2 separate regions of the Homo sapiens genome follow, and region 1 is linked to region 2. The links come from fine-mapping of genetic effects on gene expression. A gene starts in region 2. The other region holds a variant in brackets. All regions are shown on one strand. Distances are from middle to middle. Region 1 has its middle 59 kb from the start of ACSL4. Region 2 holds the start of ACSL4 (acyl-CoA synthetase long chain family member 4).

Region 1 (5,385 bases), 59 kb after region 2:
CTTATTCAATTATTACTATGTGTTTGACACTGTTGTAAACCTTTACATATATTGGCCCACTTGAGCCTCACAAGAACCCTATAAGGTAGGTACTGTTATTATCCTTCATTTTACAAATAAGGAAATTGAGACACAGAGAGAATAAATAACTTGCCCCAAGGTCACCCAGCTAGTGAGTGAAGGCTGGCTCCAGGGTCTGGGCTATTAACAACTGTGCTGAGAAGAAGAAAGGAAATACACAAAAGAGTTCTCTGGGGCAGTGATTTTTACATTACGTTTACATGATGATCATTTTGATTATGTGAACAAGGAATTACAGGAAGAAGGTAGAATTCGGGGATTAAAAAGGATGTTGGCAAGGAAAAAAGAATAATGATAATGGTCAGGAGCCTTGAGAGTACGTGACCTTTGGGCGCGGTGGCTCACGCCTGTAATCCCAACCCTTTGGGAGACTGAGGTGGGTGGATCACCTGAGGTTGGGAGTTCAAGGCCAGCCTGGCCAACATGGCGAAACCCTGTCTCTACTAAAAATGCAAAAATTAGCCGTGCGTGGTTGTGCACACCTGTAGTCCCAGCTACCCAGGAGGCTGAGGCAGGAGAATCGCTTGAACCCAGGAGGTGGAGGTTGCAGTGAGCCGAGATCATGCCGCTGCACTCCAGCCTGGGTGACAGAGTGTAACTCCGTCTCTAAATAAATAAATAAATAAATAAATAAATAAATAAATAAGAGAGAGAGTATGTGACCTTGGGAAAGTCATCTAACTTCTTAGTAAAATTATCCTGTGTATGACATGAGTAATTTATGTAATGTGCATAAATCAGTGCCTGACACATAGGAAGCCCTCAATAAATGGAATAATTACTGTTTTTGAAATTATTATTACCTGTTACTATTATTAATCAGAGTACATGAAGACAACTTATTATTGTCAGGATCTGGGATTTTATGCCACTGGCAAGCTAACAAATTAGCTTTCCACAGTTTAATGGATGATGGCAGAAGACATGAGAGTTCAGGAGTAAAGGATTTTACTCACAGCACAGCAAGTAACATGAGCATCAGCATATTTGCATTGGTTCCCCGTTGCCCTCAAGTTCCACAGGCTTGACATTTGGGAACCCAGGTAGATGCTGAGTACACAGTGGGTTTGCATCAGAGTGGAAGAACACTGAGCTTGGAGAATTTATAGCTTTTACAATGGGCAGTAAGCAAGCTTGCTCTTTGTCCCTGAAGATCTTGTCTCCTCTCTGATGCACACTGGAAACAAATGTCTTAGAAATGGCCTTTCCTTGGAAACTTGAGAAGCAGGTTGAGAGAGGGAAAGAGAAGAAATGGCCCAAGTAAAGAGTAGGCAAGGCTTTGCATACTCAACAAAAGCATGCAGGGATGTTCAGGGACCATGGCAGATTGCCTCTCACAACTGTTATTATTATTATCACCTACTACTATGAACCAGAGTAAAACATGACTTATCTTTTGTCCCTGTTTCTATCTGCACACATTACATGCTGTACCTTCTTTCTCTGGACCCTGAATTGATCTTTTGAGGAATTACCTAATGACTCAAATAAAAAGACTATTCTTCCCTTACCTCTTCTGATTTCCTTTTCCTGACTGCAGACTGAGGTGTCTCTCACTCTTCCTTCCTATTTTACTTCAGCCTGAGACATCATACAGAGTTTTACTCTTTTTTTTTCCCCACTACAATAGGCATTTTGAAAACTCATTAATTTTTTGGAGCCAGAACAAGCATGCTATCTTCCAGCATGACATCTCCAACTGGAAGCATTGCTTTTTCCACAGGGAGCCAAATAAAATGTCACCTTTTAGGCAAGGTGTGGCTTTCTCCAGAATGAGCTTTGAAAACTTATGATCATCTGTAATCCCAGCACTTTGGGAGGCTGAGGCGGGCAGATCACTTGAGGTCAGGAATTTGAGATGAGCCTGGCCAACATGGTGAAACCCTGTCTCTACTAAAAATACAAAAATTAGCCAGGCATGGTGGTGCGCGCCTGTAGTCCCAGCTGCTCAGGAGGCTGATGCAGGAGAATTGCTTGAACCCGGGATGTGGAGGTTGCAGTGAGCTGAGATCACACCACTGCACTCCAGCCTGGGTGACAGAGCGAGACTCTGTCTCAAAAAAAAAAAAAAAAAAAAGAAAAGAAAAGAAAAGAAAACTTACGATCAACATACATTTCATCAGGCTACCTGGAATAGTCATCTATATTTCACTGAATATTAAATATGCCTGGCACAATTAAACTGCAATATCCATCAGAAATTCTTTTCTAAATCAGGGCCAGAAAGTGTTAGTGCAGAAAGAAAACTTAGATGTTGACTGTATTAGTTTCTTAGAGCTATCATGACAAAATACCACAAACTGTGATGGCTTGAAACAACAGAAATTTATTCTCTCGTAGTTCTGGAGGCTAGAAGTCCAAAATCAAGGTGCCAGCCGGGCTACAGTCCTTTTGAAGCTTCTAGGGGTAGATCTTTTCTTACCTCTTCCAGCTCTTGGTAACACCAGGCATTCCTTGGCTTGCAGCTGCGTAACTCCAATCTCTATGTCTAGCTTTACATGGAGTTCTTTTTGTGTGTTTCTCTTTTCTTCTAATAAAGACACCAGTTACACTGAATTAAGGGCCCACTCTACTCCAGTATGACCTTATCTTAACTAATTACATCTGCAATGACTTTATTTCCATATAAGGTCACATTCTGAAGTGCTAGTAGTTAGGACTTCAACATATTATTTTGGGAGGGGACACAACTTAACCTATAACATTGATTGATTCTTTTACTTTGCTGATAATAAAATGAGACACAAGAAGGTCATGAAGTTCCCACAGTCACTGCTCTTTAAATTCCATCTTTCTGGATTTAGGACCCTTCCCCACTTTCTCCCCCAAGAATGGCTGAAGCCCTCAGACCTTGTCTAACCTCTTGGTCTTCTAACCCATTCTCTCTGTTGACTTTTAATATCTTATCCCTCACCTTGCTGCTCTGCTGCATGACCCCTGCCCTGATGCCACCTATGCCCCAAAGTGTGCGCCATGAGAGGCAGTCTTCATGTCTCTGAACACTCCATGGTGAAAACACAATAGACATTGGAGTGCACTTGTGCCTTTGCTTTGGATGAAGTCAGAATGAGCCTCTTGAAGAATGTGTGGGCTGGTAGAAAAATTAATATGGACAATAATCATATA[T/C]GGAAGTTTATTGCTGAAAATTGTCTTGGGATGATAGGCAAGTCATAGCTATATTATTTTAAATGATACAAAACAAACACACCTGAGAGAGGACTTTTTTTCAGACTACCACAGGGCAAGTATAAGCAAGTGAAACCTACGGACCTAAAGCCTTTTCTTGGTTCTAGAGGTGTGCTCACATTCCTCTGGGATGGTAAAACACACAGGAAGGTGATTCAGAGCTTCCTTCAGGAGATTAATGCTTCAAAAGCCAAACCCTCTGGGCAAGCAAACTTTCCCTTGGTCTTCTTGGATTTTCTTCTTTACTTGATGCTGAAGGCGTTTCATGTACTAATTAAGAGATATTTATCTTCTTTTTAATTCAACTGAAAAATACCTATAGAAAGGCTATATCAAGTTAACGCCTATCACTGAATAGACTTAATAGTGTTATTTTCTCTTATTGAAATGTACTCAGCACCATCAAGCCTATTATTGTATTTATATCCTGAAAATGCCAACTACATAAATAGAGGAAGACCAGGTTTGATGATTACATGAATTATTACAATTTAGAGGAAGATCATAGAACTTGCAAGATCCAAAGGAACCTTTTTTTTTTAAGTGGTCTTCCACAGCACTCATGTTTGCCTCTAGAGTTCATCAAATTTCATTTATTATCAACTGGCATGGTTACTTAGGTCATTCCTGCCGCTTAGAATAGAATTGGTAGAGCAGGTCCCTGATCTCTACCATAAACCCTATCAATCATTTTGGGTTGAAAAACAACAACAACAACAAGTACAACAAAAACAGTGTGGTCTTCCTTTAATATCCCAACTGAGCCTTTTGTGAGCAGGGGCCAACTCAATTCAAAAGTAGGTATACTCCTAATGGTGGTTGCCCAGGGCTGGGGGAAGGGGAAAAGGGGAGTTACAGTTTAACGGGTATAGGGTTTCAGTTTTGTTTGTTTTTTTTTTTTTTTTTTTTTTGAGACGGAGTTTCACTCTTGTTGCCCAGGCTGGAGTGCAATGGCGCACTCTTGGCTCACCACAACCTCTGCCTCCGGGTTCAAGCGACTCTCCTGCCTCAGCCTCCCAAGTAGCCGGGATTACAGGCATGTGCCACGACGCCCAGCTAATTTTGTATTTTTAGTAGAGACGGGGTTTCTCCATGTTGGTCAGGCTGGTCGCGAACTCCCAACCTCAGGTGATCCACCTGACTCGGCCTCCCAAAGTGCTAGGATTATAGGCGTGAGCCACCACATGTGGCCAGAGTTTCAGTTTTGCAAGATGAAAAAGTTCTGGAGATCTGTGGTACAACAACGTGAATATACATAACACTACTGAACTGTACCCTTAAAATGGTTAAGGTGCTAAAATTTGTTATGTATTCTTTTACCACAATACATTTTTTTTTTTAAGATGGAGTTTCACTCTTGTCCAGGCTACAGTGCAGTGGCGTGATCTCAGCTCACTGCAACCTCTGCCTCCCGGTTTCAAGCGATTCTCCTGCCTCAGCCTCCCGAGTAGCTGGGATTACAAGTGTGCACCACCACACCCAGCTAATTTTTGTATTTTAGTAGAGACAGGCTTTCACCATGTTGGCCAGGCTGGTCTCGAACTCCTGACCTCAAGTGATTCTCCCACCTCAGCCTCCCAAAGTGCTGGGATTACAGGCGTGAGCCACCACGCTCAGCCTAAAAATGTTTAAATTAATTTTTTAGAAAGTAGATATGCTAGTATGATTAAATAGGGGCCCCAAAGCCTCAGCCATCTGCTGAGCCTCATCTCAGCCTCTCCACAACTACCTACTTTAGTACCTAACAATCCCCCTACATCCAATTAAAGTTCCTCTTTCAAGTAAAAGCATTTTCCACATCAGGTCCCCATATAGACTACATACAGATTTGCAGGGAGAAAAGGGATAGTCAGGTAACTATTAATATGAACTAATTGAATAAAAATGTATAGGTGAGAAATTAGGACATGAAGCTACACAATATTTTTTTGAAGGAAACAATCTAGAAAAGTTGGAAACAAGGGATACCCTAAGAGTAGAGACACAGGAGGACCAGCGAGGTATGAGTGAGGTGAGACTCCCTGGAACGGGAGGAAAGGTCTTCAATATGAATCCTGAAAGGGCTTAGTAGTGTACCAAACATGCAATGTACCTATGGCACAACCAAATCCAGGTTGG
Region 2 (5,385 bases):
TATTTTTAGTAGAGACGGGGTTCCACCGTATTAGCCAGGATGGTCTCGATCTCCTGACCTCATGATCCGCCGGCCTCGGCCTCCCAAAGTGCTAGGATTACAGGCGTGAGCCACCACACCCAGCCATTCCCTTATAAATTTCTAAAAGCCATGGACATTTAAAAAATAGTGCGGTATAACACACATTTCACTTGCAAGCAGAAATTAACATAATACCCAACATTTGTAAAATGCTTCTGAGTTTATAGATTTTCACATATAATTATTTATTTAATCAGGATTAAGAACTAAGTATACCTAAATTGAAACCACTATACACAAACCTTTGAGAAAAACATTCTAGTCAACTGGTATAACAGGATTTATAACAGCCTTAACGCAAATTGCATTATATGTGTGTGTGTATACCTATATATACACGTGTGTATATATATATTTGTCATATATATTCATTATAAGAATATATCATTCAAATTGGGGGACTTGTGGATCATTTCAACAACCATAAAGACACTTATTTTACAGATGCAAAAACTAAGAGAGGTGAAGTGACTTGTTCAAGGTTAAATATATATCTAGAGTTGGGTCTAGAACCTGAGCCTCTCCAGAGTTCCAATTCATTTCTCTTGTCTGAATTGAACAAGACTCTTCTTTCTTCACCCATCTCACCCCTACCAAAAATACTGAAAGAAATATCTTAATCTAAATCACTTGTGTTTTTAAATAGGGGGTTTTCCAAAAAAAAAAAAAAACCCACAAAATTGAATTTACTCAAGCTTTCAATTGCTGTATTACACCTTCCATGGATTTTTAGTTGTCAAATTATTTCTTATAGCAGGACAATAAGGTACTTTATTCTAAGGTACAAGTATACTAACAGTTTAATGTTTCATCCCCCACCTAAATGGCAGAGAGTGTTAATTCTAACAGGAGTCTTACATGTCTTACACTTTAGCAGTTTCAATCAAAAGATGAGCTATTTTACAATTTAAGGAAGAGGCCTTACACTGTTAAAATCTTGACCGATATGCTCAATGGCAGTACCATCATTGAATCTCCACCTGCTGCCTTACGTATCAAGAACATTTAAAAGTCTTTCTTGTTAGAGACAAAATAAAAGAAAAACTAAGGTGACAAGCGACTATGAGAAATAAGGCTTTAATCAGGTTAAATTTGCATTATGCAGCCTGCATGAATTTAGAGGTCCTAGAATCAAAACACTAGAAGGAACCTTTGATATGCTCTAGTTCAACAGACTGATTTTTGCAGAAGAGGAAACTGAAGCGCTGATGAGACCATTAACTGATAAAGCAAACCGCTTACTTTTTCAAAGGGATTCATTTCAATGCCATTTTACCCTTATTTTGCATCTCACTGTTGTTTCTCAGAGCGACGATTGACCTTTTTTTAGGTGAAAAGAGCGAATAGAGCGTATTAATTTCAAGAGGGTGAAAAATGCCTTTGAAGGAGGAGATGCTGGAGTGAAGAGGAGAAATGACGTCTTATTTAAAATATGTAACCCCTTGATGGGGTTAGACAATGAATCATATTCTCCTAGATTTTTCTATGTCTATAGACATCAGCCACAGTTCTTTCAGGCACTCAAACGAGAGGAAGAGGAAGTGAATAAAGCTCATACTAAATATATAGCACCCACTGAAGGCAGGGATGTAGACAGAAAGAACGGGGGTGGGGGAAGGAAGGAAAGCACGCTTCGCCAGGATCCAGCTGTTTTCTAACAAACCTAAGCCTACGGAAGCTAGGAAGATATCGGAAGCAAGGAAGATATCGGAAGCGACGGCATCCCTCAAATTCGAGAGGGCGGATGCCTCTAGGGCTAGAGAGGCTCCCTAGCCCTCAGTTACAGAGCGACTGGGAGGGGACAAAATGGAGTTGAGGTTTAGGGGCACCCTAAAGGTCGTTTGGAGGTCTAGCAAGCACTTCATGGTCTCCTCCGGAAAGGGCCGTGGCAAAGCCTAGTACCCCGATCAGGAAGATGACTTCTGGCCCTCGGGATGCGGTGAGCGGCAGGAAGAGGCAGGCTGGGGTTCCGAGGACCCCAGAGTCCATCACAGGAGCAGATACAGTGACCTCGGGAATCTTCCCGGCCCCAGCGGAGGCGAGCGGATAGATAGCCCTGGCTCAAGGAAAAAAGCGAGCCGACTCCAGGAGCTGGAATGCCCACCCAACCTCCTCCCGGCTCAGGTGAGGTACGCCAGTCCCCCTCTGGAAATGGGGCCCTGGTACCGACAGGGCAGGGGTGCCGGGGCCGCAACCTCCCCATCCAGGGATACTCACCGGAGGGGCGGCCCACCGCGTCTTCGCAGCCGGCCGGCGCCTGGCACTCGGAAAGCTCGCAAAAAGGAACCGCGTGCCCGCTAGCGCTGGGACGAGGAGGAGCGCGCGGCGGAGGCCAGAGAAAAAGCCGCAGCGGCGCGCGCGCACCCGGACAGCCGGCGGAGGCGGGACTCAGCGCGAGCCCGGAAAAGACGCGCCCGGAGGGGCGGGCGGAGCGGGGGCGCGCGGTGGTGTGGCAGAGCCAGCCGAATCGCTGGCTGCAGACGGCTCGGCCCACCCACGCGCCCGCCCCCGCTCGCCCGGGACGTCAGTCGAAAAGGCGGAGCCGAACGGGCTTCCCGGGGCGCGGGAGGGGCGCTGCGAGGAAGGCGAGGCGGCTAACGGCTCGCCTCAAGTTGTTGCTCCCGCTGGCGATCCGCTTCTGTCAGTCTCGCTGCTGGTGTCGTTGAGTGTGTTTCGGGATGTCCTTGCGCCTAACAGCAGTGAGGCGCAGAATTGGCCCACGCCCTCACCTGCGGCTTGCTTCGCAGGACTCCACCCCAGGATAAAAGTTCCCCTCGGGTCATCTTCCAGCTGCCCTCAAAAGACACTCATTTTTGGGTTTCACTGCTCCTCTTTAAGAGAGCTATCTTGAACACTTTGACTAAAAGCATCTTGCTCCTGTAAGCCTGAACTAATGCCTCTCATCCGTTTATCTTGCCTCTTACTGCGTTAAGATCCCCGCTCACTCCCACTGATGAAATATCACAAGGACGCAGGATTTTCACGTTGTCTTTCATTTCCACGATGGTATCATGGCAAAAAAACCCCCAACTGATAAGGAAAAGTCACCGCAGCTTTGTGACATCTTACTAGCCCTGATCATTGCTTATAAGCCGGTCATACGAATGCTGTTCCAACAGATGCAAGAAATTGCTATTAAAATTAAAATGCCAGCGAACTATCTGAGGGCTTCAAAAGGGACAGACCATAATTGCAAATGAGGCCTGATAAACTGCCAAGAATATATCACCCAAAAAAATAAATCTCAAGAATTCTTCCAGTTCCCTGATGCGTAATGGTGAACTAGCTTCCTGTTCCTGATGGTAATTGACATTTCACTTCACTTGCTGATTTCCATTTTCCCATAGAATTACCATTTGTGCTTGTGTGTGTGTATATATATATGTATATATAAAATGCCTTACCACCTGAGATTACAAGCTAGAGTAGTTCTTCAGTGTGCATCACAATTATCTGGGGTGCTTGTTGAAATGTAGGTACCTGGAGCTACAACCCCCAGGTATTTTGATTCTGATCTGGGTAGGGATAAGAAATTTGAATTTTTAATAAGCAGCCCAGGTGACACTAAAAGTGGTTAGCTGAGAGCACAGAGCTATAGTTTTTGTGTTACTACTCTAAAGCCATATTACCAATTCAATTTCCAAGAAACCCACCCACTTACATATAATATACCTATAAATATTGCTAAGACAGTCATGTAGCTTCCTTTTTCAAGATTGACCTACAAAGTTCAGTACTTCAAACAACGAGTTTAATTGTCATGTTTATTTTATGAAATCTTGTTTTAATACCAGAAATAAGCAATCATATGTCAGGTACGTAATTCACTGGGTAACTATGATGTACAGAGCACTATCACCTACAGTTGGGTTAACACAAATGAAATTGAAGAAATGAATATCGCTGTTCTCAATAAAGTTAGTGTCTAGTTGTGGAATTAAAATATAGATATAATACAAACCCAGTGTAGCACATAAATCAGTGTGCTGGATGAAGATGAAAAAGAACTTGTAATTAAAGAGTACTTTTGCCAGTTTCCTTTATTGTCGGTCTCTTAGCCCAGACATTTTCAATTAGGTAATTTCCTCTGAACAGAGTCTTCAGCTTACTGAAGTTCCTCCAGCTCTACAAGATATAAAGGAAAGAAATCACTATAGCCTGAAACTATCCGTTTTTTGGTATACAAATGTGTGTATGATATACATATAGATATGTTTATCAGACCAAGAAACTACTTGGATTTTCAAGATCTCTTATTACTTAAGCTATTCATTAGTGTGTACAGTTCTGGCTGTCTTCATCACCTACCACATCTCACCTTCTTCCACATTTAACTGCACCCAAGTTGAAGAGGAAAGAAGAACTATACCTCCAAAAAGGAAACCAAGTATAACCACGCTATTTCCAGCTTTCCTTTTTCGGAGTCAAAACAAACCTTGCTTAATTTCTTGTCATCAGAAACCTTCCAGAAATTACTGCCCAGGAGCAAAATATTTCCCAAGCAGCTGTCTGACATTTTAAAGAGAACATTTGCAACGTTGTTTATTAGTTAGGAAGATAGGGTATTATTATCCCTATTTCACAGATGAAGAAATAGATGCAGGTTAAGTGTCTTGTCCAGTCACACAACTAAGTAGTAACAGAGCCTGAATTTCCTACTACACTGCTTATGACTCCTAGACCAGGGTGCTTGCCGCTACATTAAGCTGCCTCTGTAATGAGTCCTACCCAGAACTACCAACCCAATTAGAAATGGAGTAGATAAACGTATGGAAATGGAAGAGTTAGGAAAATGTACAATGCAATTGACAGATTCAAAATGCAATGTAATAAGTACTAAAAGCATGAGAATTAGTCTGTTAGAAGCTAAACAGAATTTAAAGGACAGCTCTGTTAACAGGCACTGATATTTAGGCCTTGCCTATTTTATTATTCTGTAACAAGAAGCTGAAACAGATAGCCAGGCTGCTCTTGGCATTAGTTATTTATGGAAGGGCAGAAAACAACTGTTCTTCATTGACTGTGTAACAAGCCTTTGCGTGTTAAACTTCACGGGTTTGTAGAATAATAATAATTTTCTCCTGTGGTCTAAATACAAGCAGCAGGGCTTCATAATAATATTTGCATTGACAAGTTGTGTTAGATTTTGTCATTAACAAACCTTATTTTTTGCAGACCCAACAACCAGGCCAAATATTGTCTTTAGTGGCTTGTGTTAAACAACCGGTGAAATCAGAAACCTACGTAGATGATCATCTCACTGTGAACATAAATAATAACCTAAGCCACTCCTTTCAAAAATGA

What was found.
Region 1: its variant is fine-mapped to the expression of ACSL4 in nasal epithelium (TOPMed, PIP above 0.99).

The regions. Positions count from the first base shown.
Region 1 is chrX:109,790,003-109,795,387 of GRCh38, forward strand. No RefSeq gene overlaps it. Among named protein-coding and RNA genes, the nearest start is that of ACSL4, 59 kb to the left of the region's middle. The variant T/C (reference allele first, on the strand shown) is at 3,208.
Region 2 is chrX:109,730,841-109,736,225 of GRCh38, forward strand. It overlaps ACSL4 (acyl-CoA synthetase long chain family member 4), which reads right to left and starts at 2,417. Exons shown (of 16, transcript NM_001318510.2): 1 at 2,299-2,417. It overlaps LOC105373311 (a long non-coding RNA gene), which reads left to right and starts at 1,671. Exons shown (of 1, transcript NR_158569.1): 1 at 1,671-4,118. RefSeq lists enhancers at 1,780-1,829, 1,890-2,029 and silencers at 2,152-2,272, 2,370-2,679.